Linked DNA regions of Homo sapiens. The protein of the gene in region 2 purifies or fractionates together with the protein of the main gene of each other region. This does not show direct contact. Each region holds a gene or a part of one and is shown on either strand. Other genes may lie near its edges.

Region 1 (7,949 bases), on a different chromosome or scaffold from region 2:
GAATGAATGACACTTTAGTACTGCATCCTTTTTTCTAGGGTTAGGGTGGTCATAGGGTGGCGAGCCAGTGTCCTACATGGGAAGTCCTGCCAGATGCCAAGTCTCTGCACTTCCTGCAGCAGCTGCTTAGTGGCCAGAGCCCACATTCCTGAGTTGGGCATTCAAGGCCTCTGTCCCCAGATGGGCCCTGTTCGCCAGCCCTTCTGTGGCTCCCTCAGGATAAAACACCCAGCGGAGTCTCCAGCCCCTGCCTCCTAGCTAGCCCTGCCTCCCTGCCTCTTCCTTTCCTCTCTCACACCTGCCTTTACCTACCTCAGGCCCTTTGAACATGCTGCTGTCTCTGCCTGGAAGGTGCTGGGTCCTCCCATCTTCCTTCCCTTCTCTCCTCCTGGATGAGTCCCACTCATCCTTCAAGTCTCAGTATGGATGTCACCACCGGGAGCCCACCCAATGCCCCAGACTGGATCAGGCCTCTATGCTGAGCCCCTAGCCCTCCTCAGCCCTCCACGACCTTCTCTCCAGGATTGACTGCTGTGCTTATCTGAGTGCTGTTATGTTTCCCCATGAAAGATGAACGGTCCTGTGTTCGCTGCTGGCTCCCTGGTGCCCTCACAGTTTTGCAATAAGCATTTGTTGAATGACTGAGTGAGTGAATGAATGAAGCCTCTGACTTTCCAGCCTCTCCGCCATTGCTCAACTATCCCTGCAACCTAGAATGCCTCAACCACAACAGCCCTTCAAGGACCAGCTCAAAATGCCTCCTCCAAGAAGCCTTCCCTGGTCTCCACTAGAAACCATCACTCCCTCCCCTCCACGGCCACTCCAGAGCTGCCCTGCTCAGCAACACAGTGTCCCTGAGGACTCAAGGTCTGGGCCTGTGCCCACTGCGGGACCCAGTTCTGAGCCAGCCCATGACTCACATACACTCAGCTGCCAGCTTGAGACCAAGGGGGAAGCAGCCGGTGGAGGAGCTGGAGGAGCGTATCTGGGTTATGGGTGCATATGTGCCTGTGTTCTAGGAAAGGGCACCCGTTGCCTAGAGCCAGCCACCCTCACAGACGACAGCGTCCTGGGAAATCGGCTGCATCTTAAAGTCCAACCCCCTCATGGTATATAGCTAGGGAAACCGAGGCCTCAGAAGGAAGGAACCTGCCCAGGGTCCTCCAGGTTGGTAACAGCCGAAACTCAGGATTGGACTTGGGGGTCAGGGTCACTTGGGTTTGAATTTCAGCTCTGCTTTACCCCAGCAAGTTGTACCTTTCTGGAAAAAAGGGAAAATAAAAAAGGTTGTGAGGATTCAAACACATCAAGAGTTCAGACAGTGGCCGGTGTGGTGGCTCACGCCTGTAATCCCAGTACTTTGGGAAGCCAAGGCGGGTGGATCACCTGAGGTCAGGAGTTCGAGACCAGCCTAGCCGACGTGGTGAAACATTGTCTCTACTAAAGATGTATAAAAATTAGCCAGGCGTGGTGGCAGGCGTCTGTAGTCCCAGCTACTCGGGAGGCTGAGGCATGAGAATCGCTTGAACCCAGAAGGCGGAGGTTGCAGTGAGCCAAGATCACGCCACTGTACTCCAGCCTGGGCAACAGAGCAAGACTCCGACTCAAAAAAAAAAAAAAAGCTCAGACAGGATCTGGCCACAGCAAGTACTTAGTGGATGGTCATTATTATCAATATTTCGAACTCTGTGTCCTGGGATACAGGCTAGGAGGAGGAATTGGGGAGGCAGGTGCCCCACACCCCTCCAGGCCAGGCTTTATCTGTGTCAAGGGTACTTCCCAGTTCCAAGCCTTTGCTTCTGCCTGGGACACCACCCTCCTCCCCACTGTTCTAAGTCCTGTCTGCCAACATCCACTTAATGTGACCTCCTGGGAAGCTCTTCCTGATGCTCCCAACAGCATTGCCCAATGCAGAGCTACCTGAAACTATTGTGATGGATGTACAACCCTGGGAATACACAAAAGCCTACTGAACTGTACAGTATGGGTAAGTTGTATAGCTCAATAAAGCTGTTACGCCAAACAAAACAAAGAGCATGCACCATACTTACACCACATTTACTAAATCCTCAGTGTATGTTAACATGCCAATCTTTACTATACCAAAGATAATAATGACGATAACCATTTACTGAACTCTTGCATGCTAGAACCTGCTAAGGATTTTCCTTTTTTTTGCATTTAATTCTGACACATCCCAGTGCAGCAGACACTAATCGTTATTCCTATTTTATAGAGGGGGAAACTGAGGCTGAAGAAGGTGAGAAGGGAGCCGATGGTTCTCTTCACACCCCACCCCTGCACTCGTAAGCACGCAAAAGGCTGCTCTGTAAGCTGCTGACATTTGGCAAGGCTGTGAGGCTACACCAGCAAAGCCGGGTGGCTGGGGATGCTGAATCGGCAGAGCGACGCCCCCGCGTCCCCAACTCCACGTCCCGGCCCGGCCCCTCCGCTAAGCTCAACCCTGCCTCCCTCAGGTGCCTCGGTCTCCCCCAGGACTGAAGGAAGTGGTGGAGCAAGGCCCACAAGGGCGAGTGTCCCCGAAGCTGCCTTAGTTTCCCCATCTGTAAAACGGGACTGGTGACCTGCAGCTCTCACGGGGCTGGGAACCGGCTCGCGGGTGCTCGCCCTGCATCCGAGACAGCACCTACAACTCCGGACCCGCTCGGGGCGGAATGGGTGGGCTCTTTGTTCCCTTCCGAGACCCCATCTCGATTCCCCTTCCCGGGAGGGCAGCCCTGAAAATGCAAGGTTGCTCCAGCAGCCCCCTCGGGTCACCTGCTTCCCCGAAGCCGTCCTCCTCGCCTTCCGCTCCCGCCTCCACCGGCATCCCCAGGTCTCCGTTGGGGCCCGACATTGCGGGCTCGGGCGCCCGAAGGGCCGCGCGACGATGGAACGCGGCGACCGTCGCGCCGAAAGCCGGCGCCGGATGGAAGGTGGAGGCGGCGGATAGAACACGGGCCGGAAGGGTAGAACGCGGCAGCAGATCTCCGCCCAGAGGCCGGTGCCCCGCCCCTGAAGCCGGAATCCCGCAGCTCCCGCTCCGCCCCGCCCCGCCCCCAGCCGGAACTCCGCCCCCGCCGCTGTTCTGGCCCCGCCCTACCTCCAGACTCCACCCCCACCACCGGACTCCCGCCTCCACCTCCCTCACAGTCGAACTCCGCCCATTCCGCCCCCGGCCTCGCCCCTCTCCCGGGCGCTGGGCGGGGCCACCACGGGGCTGCCCCTGGAAAAGCCCAGGAGTAGGGAGGTCCGGGAGGAGCGGCGGGAGACCGTCCAAGCCCATCTGCTGCTTCGGCCCCTCCGCGTTGGCGAAATCGAAAACGGGGTTTCCTTGTTATTTTTTGAGATAGGGCCTGGCCCTGTCTTCCAGGCTGGAATGCAGTGGGGTGATCTCTGCCTCCCAGCCTGAAGCGATCCTCCCACCTGAGCCTCCAGAGTAGCTGGGACTACAGACGGCTGCACCACGCTGGCTATTGTATTTTTTGGAGACGGGGGGGGGGGGGGGGGAGGGGTTTCGCCATGTTACCCAGGCTGCTCTCGAACTCCTGAGCTCGAGCCATCCACCCGCCTCAGCCTACCAAAATGCTGGGATTACAGGCACGAGCTACTGGGCCCAGCCTTGGAAACGGGGTTTCCACACCTCTTGTGGCTTCCGGATATACCTCTTGTGGCTTCCGGATATTCTTCTTCACAGCCTCGCTGAGAGTCACGAAGGGTCTCCTTCCTCTTTGCCTCTCTGCCTGCACCCCAGTGGAGAGGACCCAACACCCCTACCCCTGGATCTGGGCCTTCCTGGTCTTCAGCGCTTCTCTTAGGGCTCATTGGTTACAACCTGTGGGTGGGAATCAGGCTGGACTCCAGCTCTGGACAAGAGAAACAGGAACATTAGCTAGGCGGGGTGGCTCCCACCTGTAATCCCAGCGCTACGGGAGGCCGAGGTGGGAGGATTGCTTGAGCCTAGGAGTTGGAGACCAGCCTGGGAAACATAGTGAGACACCCTACTCCCACCCCCGCCCACTCAGCCCCCCCCACCCCCGTCTCTACAGAAAGCACAAAAAAAATTAGCCAGACCTGGTGGCATGCACCTTAGTTGCAGCTGTTTGGGAGGCTAAGGCAGGAGGATCACTTGGGCCCAGGAGTTCGAGGCTATAGTGAGCTATGACTGCACCACTGCACTACAGCCTGGGCAACAGAGTGAGACCCTGTCTTTAAAAAAAAAAAAATTAATTAATTAATTAAAAATAAAATGTTTAATTAGCCAGGTGTGGTGGTACACGCCTGTAGTCCCAGCTACTCAGGAGGCTGAGGCAGGAGAATCACTTGAACTGGGAGGCAGAAGTTGCAGTGAGCAGAGATCGTGCCCTTGCACTCCAGCCTAAGCAACAGAGCAAGACCCTGTCTCAAAAAAAAGAAAAAAAAAGGCCAGGCCTGGTGGCTCACGCCTGTAATCCCAGCACTTTGGGAGGCCGAGGCGGGCAGATCACGAGGTCAGGAGTTTGAGACCAGCCTGACCAACATGGTGAAAACCCGTCTCTACTAAAAATACAAAAATAAGCCGGGCGTGGTGGCGTGTGCCTGTAATCCCAGCTGCTCAGGAGGCTGAGGTGGGAGAATCACTTGAACCCACGAGGCAGAGGTTGCAGTGAGCTGAGACTGCACCACTGCACTCCAGCCTGGACAACAGAGCGAAAATCCGTCTCAAAAAATAAATAAATAAAAAGTTTGGCCTGGAGCAGACCTACCTTTGTTTGTTTGTTTGTTTTGAGACAGAGTCTTGCTCTGTTGCCCAGGCTGGAGTGCAGTGGCATGATCTCAGCTCACTGCAACCTCTCCTTCCCGGGTTCAAGCAATTCTTGTGCCTCGGCCTCCTGAGTAGCTGGGATTACATGTGCCTGCCACCACACCCAGCTAATTTTTTTTATTTTTAGTAGAGACGAGGTTTCACCATGTTGCCCTGGCTGGTCTCAAACTCCTGACTTCAGGTGATCCACCTGCCTTGGCTTCCCAAAATGCTGGGATTACAGGTGTGAGCCACCATGCCCGGCCTGGACCTACCTCTTTTTTTTTTTTTTTTTGAGACGGAGTCTTGCCCTGTCGCCAGGCTGGAGTGCAATGGCGCAATCTTGGCTCACTGCAACCTCCACATCCTGGGTTCAAGTGATTCTCCTGCCTCAGCCTCCTGAGTAGCTGGGACTACAGGCACACGCCACCACGCCCAGCTAATTTTTGTATTTTTAGTAGAGACGGGGTTTCACAATGTTTGTCAGAATGGTCTCGATCTCTTGACCTCGTGATCAGCCCACCTCGGCCTCCCAAAGTGCTGGGATTATAGGCATAAGCCACCGCGCCTGGTCCCTGGAGCTACCTTTTTAAGTTGAACTTTGAGAAGCCAAAGAGAAAAAAAGATTAAATAAAAATTTAATTTTTTTTTTTTTTTGAGACAGAGTCTCACTCTGTCACCCAGGCTGGAGTGCAGTGGTGCGACCTTGGCCCACTGCAACCTCTGCCTCCCGGGTTCAAGCAATTCTCCTGCCTCAGCCTCCCGAGTAGCTGGGATTACAGGTGTATGCCACCATGCCCGGCTAATTTTTGTATTTTTAGTTTCACCATATTGGCCAGGCTCGTCTCGAACTCCTGACCTCAGGTGATCCACCCGCCTTGGCCCCCCAGAGTGCTGGGATTACAAGTGTAAACCACCATTCCTGGCTAGATTTAATTTTTTAAAAAATAAAGAGAAGTAGGAATAGTTCATTTTAGGGAGAGCCCCTTAACTGGGACAGGGGCAGGACAGGGGTGAGGCTTCCCTTAGTTCAAGCTCACCTCAAACCCACCCAGGACTGTGTGTCACATTCTCCAATAAAGGAAAGGTTTGCTGCCCCCGCCTGTGAGTGCTGCAGTGGAGGGTAGAGGGCCGTGGGCAGAGTGCTTCATGGACTGCTCATCAAGAAAGGCTTCATGACAATCGGCCCAGCTGCTGTCATCCCACATTCTACTTCCAGCTAGGAGAAGGCGGCTTGCCCACAGTCACCCAGCCGGCAAGTGTCACCCCTGGGTTGGACCCAGAGCTATGATCCTGCCCAGGGGTCCAGCTGAGAATCAGGCCCACGTTCTAGGCAGAGGGGCTCACCTACTGGGACTCCAGTAGCTGTAGTGCATGGAGGCATCATGGCTGCAGCAGCCTGGACCTGGTCTCACACTGGCTGTCCCTGTGGGCAGGCCATCCTCAATGCCAGGTCAGGCCCAAGCATGTATCCCAGACAATGACAATGGGGTGGAATCCTCTCTTGTCCCAGAAGCCACCCTCACTGTTCTACCTGAGGAAGGCAGGGGCATGGTGGAATCTGAAGCCTGCTGTGAGGGTCTCCAGCGACTTGCACATGGTCAGCCCTGCCTTCTCCTCCCTGAACTAGATTGAGCGAGAGCAAGAAGGACATTGAACCAGCACCCAAAGAATTTTGGGGAACGGCCTCTCATCCAGGTCAGGCTCACCTCCTTTTTAAAATTTAATTAATTAATTAATTAATTTTTTTTTAGAGACAGAGTCTTACTGTGTGGCCCAGGCTGTAGTGCAGTGGCACAATCATAGTTCACTGCAGCCTCAAACTCCCCACCTCAGCCTCTGGATTAGCTGAGACTACAGGTGCACCACCACCACACCCAGCTAATATTTTTATTTTTGTAGAGAGAGGGTTTCACCATCTTGCCCAGGCTGGTCTCAAACTCCTGGGCTCAAGTGATCCTCCCACCTCAGCCTCCAGATTAGCTGAGATTACAGGCATACCACCACCACGCCTGGCTAATATTTTCAATTTTGTAGAGACAGAGTTTCACCATCTTGCCCAGGCTGGTCTCAAACTCCTGGACTCAAGTGATCTTCCCACCTCAGCCTCCCCACGTGCTCAGATTACAGATGTGAGCCATGGTGCCCAGCCTAGCCTGCCCTCCTTGGCTGAGAGTGAGGCCCTCAGCAGAGAAAGAGATTTGCTGATGCTCCACTGCCTTTGAAGGAGGAAGGAGCCACAGGCTAAGGGGTGCAAGGAAGATAGCATGAGAAGCTGGGAAGGGCAGGGAGCAGCTTCCCTGAGAGCCTCTGGAGGAAGCACAGCTCTGTGGACCCTCATTTCTGCCCAGTCAAACTGATTTCAAACTTCTGACCTCCAGAATATATAGGTGTTGTTTTAAACCCACAGTTTGTGGTGATTTATGATAGTGACACAGGATTTTTCTTGGTCATTCTGCCGGCCGGAGACCCCCAGCCAGTGACACCCCTGTCCAGGAAGATGTCAGCCCTGTTACCTGCTCTGGCCTGTGGCTCCAGAGCTGGCTCAACCCTAGCACTGTTACAGCTTTCTTTGTACCCTCACTTGGTGGGTCTCAAGCTCTTGTCCGGAGTCCAAGAAGAATGAGGATACGCTGACAATCAAAGGGTGAGGAGGACAGAGAATAATTTTGTTGAGTGATGGAACAACTCTCAGCAAAGAGGGGATGTGAGAGTGGTCCCGCACCCCAAGTTGGGCAGTCTCTCCCTCAGTGTGGCTGGGTCTAGGGCTTTTCTGGACTCAGAATGGGGAGTGCATGCTGATTGGCTTGTGAGTATGCAAAACGAAGGCTAAAACAAAGGCACCACTCAAAGGTGGGCATGACAGTGTAAAAAACCAATTAGGCACTTTGGGAGGCCAAGGGGGGGGCAGATCACAAGGTCAGGAGTTCGAGACCAGCCTGGCCAACATGGTGAAACCCCGTCTCTACTAAAAATACAAAAAAAAAATTAGCTAGGCATGGTGATGGGCACCTGTAATTACAGCTACTTGGGAGGCTGAGGCAGGAGAATCTCTTGAACCTGGGAAGTGGAGGTTGCAATGAGCCAAGATCATGCTACTTCACTCCAGCCCGGGTGACAGTGCAAGACTCCATGTCAAAATAAAACAAACAAACAAAAAAAAACA
Region 2 (2,969 bases):
GGATTACAGGCCTGTGCCACCACACCCAGCTAATTTTTGTATTTTTAGTAGGGACGGGGTTTCGCCATGTTGGCCAGGCTGGTCTCAAACTCCTGACCTTAGGTTATCTGCCTGCCTCAGCTTCCCAAAGTGCTGGGACGACAGGCGTGAGCCACCGTGCCTGGCCTGCAACGGCTCTTTGTGATGCCCGGAATGCTCTTCCTCCAAATCCCTACGTGGCTCCCTCTCTGCCCTGTTTTAGGATCTTACTTGTTGGTGTCTTTTCACCTTCTCTGCTCTAAAACTGCACCCCTTCCTCCCTTCCCTACTATGGTTTTCTCCATAGCAACACCGCCTCCCAGACCTGACACATCCCAGACAGCAGGCCCTCACTGCAGGGGTTGTTCGTCCTCTGGAACCTGAGCCTGTAGCGCTCCAGGCCAGCCCCTTCTGATCACCCAGGTTTCTGCTAAAACATGGCCTTGGAGGGCCCTCCCCCAGGCCCAAACCAAATTTTTGTTGTCTTTATAGCACTCATCGCTCATGTCTGCAGTGTTCTTGTTTATTTGTTTACTAGTTCATCGTCTACTCAAGTAGAATGAGCACCATGAGGGCAGGGATTTTCTCAGCTGTGTCCACCATGGTATCATGAACTCAGTACCAGGCTTGGCAAAAAGCGTGGGACTCCTTAGAACCAGGTATGATTCTCCCAAACAACCCTTGCTCTGCTCTGAGGCTGTCGTACTGATTTGCAAAGATCTGAGCCGGGGGTGGCAGAAGCCTGGTACCCAGGGGATTGGGGGCTGATGAGAGACTTGGGCCCAGGTCACCCCTAAGGTTCAAGAGATCCCTAGGAGTGGGGTGGTAGAACCCAGGCCCTTGAGGGAGGCACTGCTACTACCCAGGCGTGGGCGGTGGGGCTGGGCCAAGCCCACGTATAATGTCTTTCCTCCTCCATCTTCTATCTTTTGTCCCTCGACATTGTCTGTCTTGATCCTTATGCACTGGGGATCCGAGTGTCCAGGAGCTCCGGCTTGGCATCCACTGTGGCAGGTGCAGGGTCCTGGGCAAGGACCATGGCTATGTCAGGCCCTCCACAGATGATGGTGAAGGTTTGGGATTCCTCAGGTCCAAGGGTCTGGGCTGTTGTCTAAGGCAAAGAAGTGGTAGAGATGGGGAACATTACGAAGCAAGTTGCGGGAGAGACAGACAGATAACGGTGAGGAACAGGGAGGCAAAGGTGGCAGGAGGGCGTGTCAGGAAACAGAGAGAGATGTGGGGAGAGATATGAGGAGACAGGAAAGCAGATGTGAGGGCCAGAGAGACATTCATGGGAAAGGAAAGAAGGGTGGGGAAATGGGAAGAGAAGTGCGGGGGCACAGACGCAGACACGTGGGGGAAAGAGATGTGCAGGCAGACAGACGTACAGACAGGGTCAGAGATATGGGGGAGACAGAAAATATGCAGATAAAGAGAGACACAGGGAGGTGGGGAAACAGGTGGCGGACAGAGATGATGGGCAGAAAGACAATGAATGTTGGGGAGGGAGGAGATTGGGAGGTAGGGATAGATGAGTAGGAGACAGAGATTGAATGACAGGAGGGGAGGCAGAGAGAGGCAGTCAGCTCAGGGGATCTGGCAGGCTCCACAAAGAGCCCCAGGCCCGAGTCTGAGCTCTGTCCCTGCCCCACTGTCCCTCTGTGCCCCAGGCCACAGTCTCAAACTTCAAGGCCCCAGAGGCAGCCACACTGTAGCTCCAGCCAACTGCTATCACCTGAGAATCCAAGCCCAGTGCTGCTAGATATGCAGAGCCTTCAGGAAAGACCAGACTTTTTTTTTTTTTTTTTTTTTGAGACAGAGTCTCACAGTGTCACCCAGGCTGGAGTGCAGTAGCACAATCACAGTTCATTAAAGCCTTGACCTTCTGGACTCAAGCAATACTCCCACTTCAGCCTCTCAAATAGCTAGAACTATAGGTGCAACACTTGGCTAATTTTTTGTGTTTCTTGTAGAGACAGGGTTTCACCATGTTGCCCAGTCTGGTCTCAAACTCCTGGGCTCAAGTCATCTACCTGCTTCAGCCTCCCAAAGTGCTGGGATTACAGGTGTGAGCCACTGCACTCGGCCATTATAAATTATTTTAAAGCACTGCGGAGGCCAAACAAATTGTATCTGTGGGTCATGTCCAAACCACTGACTATCAATCTGAGACTCCTGGCTGGGCATGGTGGCTCATACCTGTAATCCCAGCACTATAGGAGGCCGAGGTGGGCTGATTACCTGAGGTCAGGAGCTCAAGACCAGCCTGGCCAACATGGCAAAACCCCGTCTCTACTACAAACACAAAACTTAGCTGGGCATGGTGGCACGTGCCTGTAATCCCAGCTACTTGGGAGGCTGAGACAGGAGAATCGCTTGAACCAGAGAGGCAGAGGTTGCAGTGAGCTGAGATCGCACCACTCCACTCCAGCCTGGGCAACAGAGCAAGACTCCTTCTCAAAAAAAAAAAAAAAAAAAATCGGATACTCCTTAACTCCAGAGGTACTGTGGGGGCTCCTTCCTGAGCCCCTTCAGTGAGTCTAGCATTCAGAGCTCTGTGTGGGCATCTCTCTCATACAAGCAGGGCTCTGAAAGCCATGGGGGCTAAGCTGGGCACCTCAAGCTTGGCCCTAGGGTTTTAAGACAGGAGAAATTTCGCCTTGGTCAAACTGTGATTTTCAGAGACATAACACCATTCCTCATCTTCCTCCCCCGCCACCCCACACACAGAGACATAACACCCTTCCTCAACTTCCTCCCCTACACACACACACACACACACACACACACACACACACCTTCCTCAGCTTCCTCCCCTACACACACACACACACACAAACACCTTCCTCAAATTCCTCCCCTACACACACACACACACACACACACACACACACACACACCCAGCAGTAAAATATAGAGGCAAAAGGGATTCAGATAGGGCCTGGGGGACA
Region 3 (7,000 bases), on a different chromosome or scaffold from region 2:
GCTCTGCTCCTAGGAACCCCAAGAGAGCTGCTCTGTCCTGACCTGAAGGAGCAGAGATGAGGCTGAGCTAAGAGCAGTACAGCCAGGTGTGGTGGCTCATGCCTGTAACCCCGACACTTTGGGAGGCTGAGACTGGCAGATCGCATGAGCCCAGGAGTTCAAGACCAGCCTGGGCCACATGATGAAACGCTGACTCTACAAAAAATACAAAAATTAGCCAGGCATAATGGCACATGCCTACAGTCCCAGCTACTCGGGAGAGGTGGGAGGATCGCTTGAGGCTGGAAGGTCGAGGCTGCAGTAAGCCAAGATCGTGCCACTGCACTCCAGCCTGGACGACAGCGCGAGACCCCATTTTCAAAAAAAAAAAAAAAAAAAAAAAAAAAAGAGCAGTGCAACCATCTGCTCACCGGGCAGCTCCATGAAAGCTTCACCACACCCTTGATGGTGGGAGCTCGTAGGAGGTAAGGTTGCATGTGGAGGACCCACTGTGAGACTCCAGGGACAGGGTGGGGCCTGGGCTACTTCAGTGCCGTGCTGACCACCCTAACACAGCCCAGCGTGGCCAAAAGGCTCCCGCTACTCACCTTTCTGCCCTGTAGGTCCTCATTTGTTAATAATTCCGGCCGTTTCTCTATGATGTTAATTTTATCTTCCAAGTGGTTAGCCTTGAAGATCTTAGAAAGAAAACCGTAAAATTACTGTATTCATACTAAAGTATTGTGTTTGTCAGGAAAAAAAAATCTCTCAAAGTTGCATTCTCCGCTTTGAATTTTCCGGCAAATGGTTCTGGAACACCACTTTTATCTGCTTTGTGGAAAAATCCTCTCCTTGGGGGGCATCCTATAGACCACGGATGAGATCAGGAGCACAATGTGATAAAAGCAAAAGAAATTTCTCCCGCATGTGCACACCAGGACTCAGTGCGAGCCTGCAGTTCTGGTGAAGGGAGTTCCCCTTTGGAGAGGAAATCAAACCAGTTACTGGCCAGGGAGAGAAATGCCATCTCCCATCAGGCTGTGAGCACTGGCTCCCTCAGCACTGATGTCCCAGAAACACATCCTACATTTAATTCTACCGCAACAGTAGCTTATGTGAAGTGAGGAAAAAAGCCTAAACTTCTTCAGACACAAAAAAACAAAGCAGAGTGCAAATGCCTGCCTCTATTTCAGTGACAGCTCCCAAGGCCTCTGGCTGCTCTCCAGGCAGCAACCAAGACAACACAGGGGTGCAAGCGAGCCACCACTCCTTTGTTCCCCTGGGGCCAATGCCACTTCAAAGCCATCAACCCAGACCCCACAGGTCCTCTCACTATTTCAGCAACAACAATTCTCACTTACTTTTCTCAACAGTTTGTGAGAAGCTGCTGAACTCTCGACTGTAAACACCTAGAGGGAACACCACGCTATTAGTTGTAAGATATTCACTTAACAGAGAAGAAATTAAAGATTAAAATGCGACAAGACCATCCTAAGACAGAGGACACACCTGAACAACCCTCCCTGCCCTCATTCCCTCCCTGGGGCAGCCTGAACACCAGCTCTGAGGCCTGACGCCTGCCTGCACGCACAGGCAATAAACCCCCCAGCCCCTGACCCGAGCATGCTGTGCCCACAACAGTGGCCTTTGCAAAGAGCCTTGATCACAGAATTGTGCACCCGGACCACGCAATGCTCTAACTCACAAGCCCACATCAGGAGGCTGACAAGGGTGCATGTCAGTACCTGCTCCACCCCCAGGTGATGGGCCAGCACGGAGAGCAGGCTGCCATCGCTGACACACAGGCACACGCTGTCTGGCTTCAGCACCTGCGGGGAACAGGCAAGCTCAGCACAGGGCTTCCTCCAGTTTGCCAGAAGATTCCTGCTGGCAAGCTGTCAGAAATACTTCCCTTCTCACTCCACTTGCCCAGACCTCAGACCATCCCCCTGCGTCCTCATGCAGTAACCACCCCCAGCCACAAACATGCCCGCCTTGCTCACATCTCCCCACCTGTCCCCAGTGTCAGGAAAGACACCCCTCAACCCAGCCTAGAGGCCCCGCTGAAGGCCTGCACCACCTGCAGGCCACCTTCCAGTCCATGACAACAGGCTTCTTCCCTGTCTGGTTAGAGCACAGACAGCTGAGAGCCTCCAAGGCTTGAGTGTTCACAATTGACTGCCCAAAGGCAAGGATGCCTTTCTGGGTGACAGACCCCTCTGAGAGAAACTCAGGATGGCTTGGATCCTCCCCCCATCCCCCAAAATGCACACATTCACACCTATTTCTGTACACACCCCCAAGGGCCTCAAGAGACCCTCCCTCTAAGCCCCATCTGTAATCCCCAAGCCGAGTCCCCTGCTACAGGTAGCAGGGAGCAAAGGTTTTCAGGCAGGAGAGCGACATGATCAGATTTACATCTTAGAAAATTTTAGAAAGGTGACAACACATGAAAAGAGGGGGTGGCCTAATCCACCGTGACCACCCACAGCAATGACTGTGTCTGACAAGGCAAAGGTGTCCAGCAGGAGCCCAGCCAGAGGCTCTCCCAGTAGAGCAGAGAGCAAGCCCTCAGGAAGTCCAGCCCCAGGCTCTCCCGCTTTCTGCTCCAGTGCCCACCCAGGAGGCGCTCGCTGAAGCCACTCATAGACAAGAGGACACAGGAAAGAAACAGCAAATCATAAGCAAAGTGCTGGGGTTCATGGGACAAACTTCTTTCTCCCTTTTCCCCACAACAAGCCAAGGGGCTGGACACTTACGGTCCTCAGAGCCTGGACGTATCGATCAGTTCTGTCCTGGTCATTGATCTCTCCAAACCGAGGCCGGTTCCAGAGCAGGTGAGCCTGGCAGTCACACACGGGGCGCATCTGGCGGACTCTCTCATTCTTTTCAGGGCTAGGCCAGGAGATGAACAAACAGACGTGGGCTGTGAGCGCCTCCACAGGTCTCCAGAGGGCATGAATCTGGACACTGGTCTCCAGTAGGCATGAGGGCTTAGAGCACCCGCTAATTCCAGACTTTTCCTACGCATCTGCTCTAAACAGATTCCAGCAACCCATGACAGCCTCTCCTGGGTACACACGAATGGGCACTGACACACTGGTCACAAATCTTTGTTCTTATGTTATTCTGTCCAGACACAAATCAACCCACTGGCACCTCCAGAGGATCTGTAAATGGGGAATTTACATACAAGTCTCAGAGGCTCATCCTCCACCCCCACGAGGCTCGACGTACCTGGTCCTCTGCAGGCTGTACCATACGCAGTAGTCATCGTGGTGGGCTACCAGATAGAGCGCTGAGCCCTGCACCACAGGCTCCTCTTGTGGCAGGAAGTACACACACTGCATCCAGTGGTCCCGCCACTGAAACGGAGAACAGAGTCAGCTGTCAACGAGCTGCAGTATGAGCAATGCTTCTAATCCAGGAGCCAAATGCCAGAGAACTGCCAGTTTTCAGGACGTCCACAATGTAGACTACAGCTGGCTATTGTGGCCAAGGAGATAAATAAACTCTAAACTCAGAGGCCAGTGGCCCAAAAGTTTGCGGGAACCCTGCTGGCTTTAGGAAGACACAATGTGGCCAAGAGCAGCAATCTGCCAGAGTGGCTCAGGGGAGGGGACAAGTGCAGGCTCCAGTCCCCACCCCATCAGAGTAGCACCAAAGCTCTCTCTTCAACACGTAGAGCTGTGCTGAATGTTTCCTTTGAAGGAAAAAAATTGGTTTAAACCTAGTGGTTTAAGGGGAACCTTTTCAGAACAGTCCATGGCACGCATTCCAAAGGCTTTAACGTACTCGGAATTTACAAAACAGTCAGACTCAATGCACTAAACCTAACTGGATCGTAGACTGAGGAAACAAAAGCTATCAAGGACTTCTGGAGACAAATTTTATTTTGAACCATATGTTAGACGATACTATGGAACCACTGTTTTTCTTAGGTGTGATCATGTGTTTCATTTATGTTGCAGACTGTTTTCATTCTTGGGAGATAAGTGTTGAAGTATTTAAAAGTAAAGTGTCAGATGTCTGCAACTTACTTTCAAATGATTTAGCAATAAAAAAAAAAAATGTGCATGCCCGTGTGTGTGTGTGTGTGTGTGTGTAGAGATGCAGGAAGGGAGGCAGAAAGACAAAGATAAAGCAGATGTGGCAAACGTTAACAACTGGTAAATTTAAATTAATAAAGCGACCATCAGTGTTCATTTTCACTTATTCTGTGGATATATAATTTTTCAAAATAAAAAGGTGGGAAAATACAAAAAGGTTTTGGCTTATTCTTTGAATTAAATTGAAGTATTTAAATAACTGAATATTCTAAATTGTGAAACATGGTTGACAATGATCCACGGTCAATTTTTAATAAGCTGTGCTAGTCCTTACTACAAACCCCACATACAGGTTTCTATCCTAAGAAAACCCCAAAAGAAAAAAAAAAGTTATATTCACATAAAAATGCAAATCACAGAATTATTTATACCAGCAAAAACTGGAACCCACCCAAATGGCCAGCACTCAGAACGGGATATAAACCCTCGTGCAGAATACGGACAGACATCTTAAACGCTGCTGCTGAAGGCCACGGGGCCCGGAACAGAGATGAGCACCGATGACACCCACGCGTTTGGAGAGAGACCAAACAAAGGGAGCTATTTTGAGTGAAAGGGAGGACCATGAGTGATATTTTTATTTTATATAATGAGGTTTATTTCGCTCATAATTGTTAAGCCTCTTTTTGAAAAAGGAAGAACTGCCCTAAAAAGTAGATGCCAGCTGGACACGGTGGCTCATGCCTGTAATCCCAACAATTTGGGAGGCCGAGGCTGGCAAATCGTTTGAGGCCAGGTGTACGGGACCAGCCTGGGTAACATACCAGTGACACCCATTTCTACAAAAAACACAAGATTAGCCATGCATAGTGGCAAGTGCCTGTAGTCCCAGCTACTCAGGAGGCTGAGGTGGGAGGATCGCTTGTGCCCAGGAGTTCACAGTTGCAGTGAGCTAAGAGGTGCCACCACAATCCAACCTGAGCAATAAAGCAAGACCCTGTCTCTAACAAACAAAAACAGGAGATGCCTGGCTCAACTCTGATGAGACGACTGCCTGCTCATTCTGTCACCTTCAGGAACTAAGAAAAACTTGGCCCTGTGGGACTCCAAGAGCACAGGTAAGGAATGTGCCCACCCACCTGGTCTTTAATTTAACAAAAAGGCAGGAGAATGACATTCCCACACGCTTAAGACGCTTACTTGAACATAAAAACTAGAAAATGAAAATCTGACCAGATATGTTCTGGAAAAATAAATAGTAACAGGAATAACACAGGTTCTTTTAAACCTTTTATTCATTCCCACACTATGCAAATGCATGTGAAGAAGACAGGAGAACCCTTTCCCGACCCCTCCTAGGCTCCCATGGCACTGCCCTGTCATCATGTCCTTCCCATACTACCTACCACAGGGACCTCCTGGGTCCTAACGTTGAGGAGCTGGTGACAGAACCCACTGTGCCAAGGTGGGACAGACTAAATATACTTAGGATCAAAGCAGTTACATGAATTCATGAGGGAGATTCATTAGCAGCTTTCAAATTTCCAATCCAAAAGTCAACGCTGGTAGAGAAACAACACAAGACCCACAGTCAAGAGACCAGGGGCAGGACCCACTCTACTGCTCCTGGACACAAGGCCCCGCTCCAATCCCTGGAGCCTGCTGAGTCCCGGGTTGGCTATGGTTGTGGTTACCTTGTTTGTCTACTAAGAGGATTCAAGGAGAAAAAATACATAGTAGCGCTCCGAAGATATGCAAATTAAAAGTACTAACTTTTTTTTTTTTTGAGACGGAGTTTCGCTCTTGTTGCCCAGGCTGGAGGGCAATGGTGCAGTCTCAGCTTACTGCAACCTCCACCTCCCAGGTTGAAGTGATTCTCCTGCCTCAGCCCTGTAGCTGGGATTACAGGCGCCTGCCACCATGCCCGGCTAATTTTCTTTGTATTTTTAGTAGAGACAGGGTTTCAACATGTTAGCCAGGCTGGTCTTGAACTCCTGACCTCAGGTGATCCACCTGCCTTGGCCTCCCAAGTGCTGGGATTATAGGAGTGAGCCACCGGCCAAAAGTACTAACATTTTAATGCTATTCTTATGCTAATTCTGCAACACAGTCTTAGGAAGAATGTGACGCGGTGCCAATCTCAACTCTGTGGGTGAATTCAGAGTGACACACACACAGCCTGCAGAGGGATGCTGGCAGGCCCTGGCTGGACACACACACACCCGGGGCCAGGCACCTGGAAGGTGGAGGGGAGACTAGGAAGCTCACATACTTCTTAGTCTCACATGCTGCTGTCGGTATGGGTACGCTGATTGACAGCAATTCCCCAGCAGTCACAACCCTTCGGCCTAAACAGTAACTCTGGGAATGGGGTAGGTGAAGCTGCTAAGGCCTTCCATAATGTTGTGGACACCTAGAACCAGCAGGTGAGCATTCAACACAAAGCCAGGGGTTAAGGCCAGGCAGGCTGGACCATGGACAAAGGATGGTGCCTGAGGCGCTCCTGGGTAGAGACAGGTTCTATTTCTTGGTCCTGAAACCAAAACTGCCTTTGCGAAAAAGTGAGAAAATTATGACAGTGAAAGAGATCTCATCTAACCAACCCCCATTTTGCTTTAATGTCCAAACTGCCCTTAATCATTCCTGGGTCCGGGCCAAGCTAACTTTGGGAGACATTTGGTTAACAGTTTATTTTTTGTTCTTATTATTTTTTGAGACAGAGTCTCGCTCTGCCACCCAGGTTTGAGTGCAGTGGTGTGACCTCAGCTCACTTCAATTTCCACCTCCTGGGTTCAAGCAATTCTCCTGCCTCAGCCTCCCGAGTAGCTGGAATTACAGGCACGCACCACCACATCCGGGTAATTTTTGTATTTTTAGTAGAAGTGGGGTTTCTCCATGTTGGCCAGGCTGGTCTCGAACTCCTGACCTCAAATGATCCACCCACCTGGGGCTCCCAAAGTGTTGGGATTACA

The links. Proteins that work in one complex are often made in the same cells at the same time.
Region 1: the proteins of THAP8 (region 2) and BBLN purify together in Homo sapiens (affinity purification with mass spectrometry; 3 studies listed by BioGRID and IntAct, with this or other methods). This does not show direct contact.
Region 3: the proteins of THAP8 (region 2) and PRMT7 purify together in Homo sapiens (affinity purification with mass spectrometry; 3 studies listed by BioGRID and IntAct, with this or other methods). This does not show direct contact.

What each region holds. Positions count from the first base shown.
Region 1 is NC_000009.12:128,155,316-128,163,264, reverse strand, and holds the start of BBLN (bublin coiled-coil protein), read right to left. Parts: upstream 3,001-7,949; 5' UTR 2,858-3,000; coding exon 2,779-2,857; intron 1-2,778. UniProt on the Homo sapiens protein: Essential for intermediate filament organization in intestinal cells, interacts with intermediate filament and regulates intestinal lumen morphology.
Region 2 is NC_000019.10:36,034,464-36,037,432, forward strand, and holds the end of THAP8 (THAP domain-containing protein 8), read right to left. Parts: intron 1,130-2,969; coding exon 977-1,129; 3' UTR 521-976; downstream 1-520.
Region 3 is NC_000016.10:68,342,019-68,349,018, reverse strand, and holds part of PRMT7 (protein arginine N-methyltransferase 7), read right to left. Parts: intron 3,345-7,000; coding exon 3,217-3,344; intron 2,875-3,216; coding exon 2,739-2,874; intron 1,809-2,738; coding exon 1,725-1,808; intron 1,389-1,724; coding exon 1,341-1,388; intron 678-1,340; coding exon 588-677; intron 1-587. UniProt on the Homo sapiens protein: Arginine methyltransferase that can both catalyze the formation of omega-N monomethylarginine (MMA) and symmetrical dimethylarginine (sDMA), with a preference for the formation of MMA.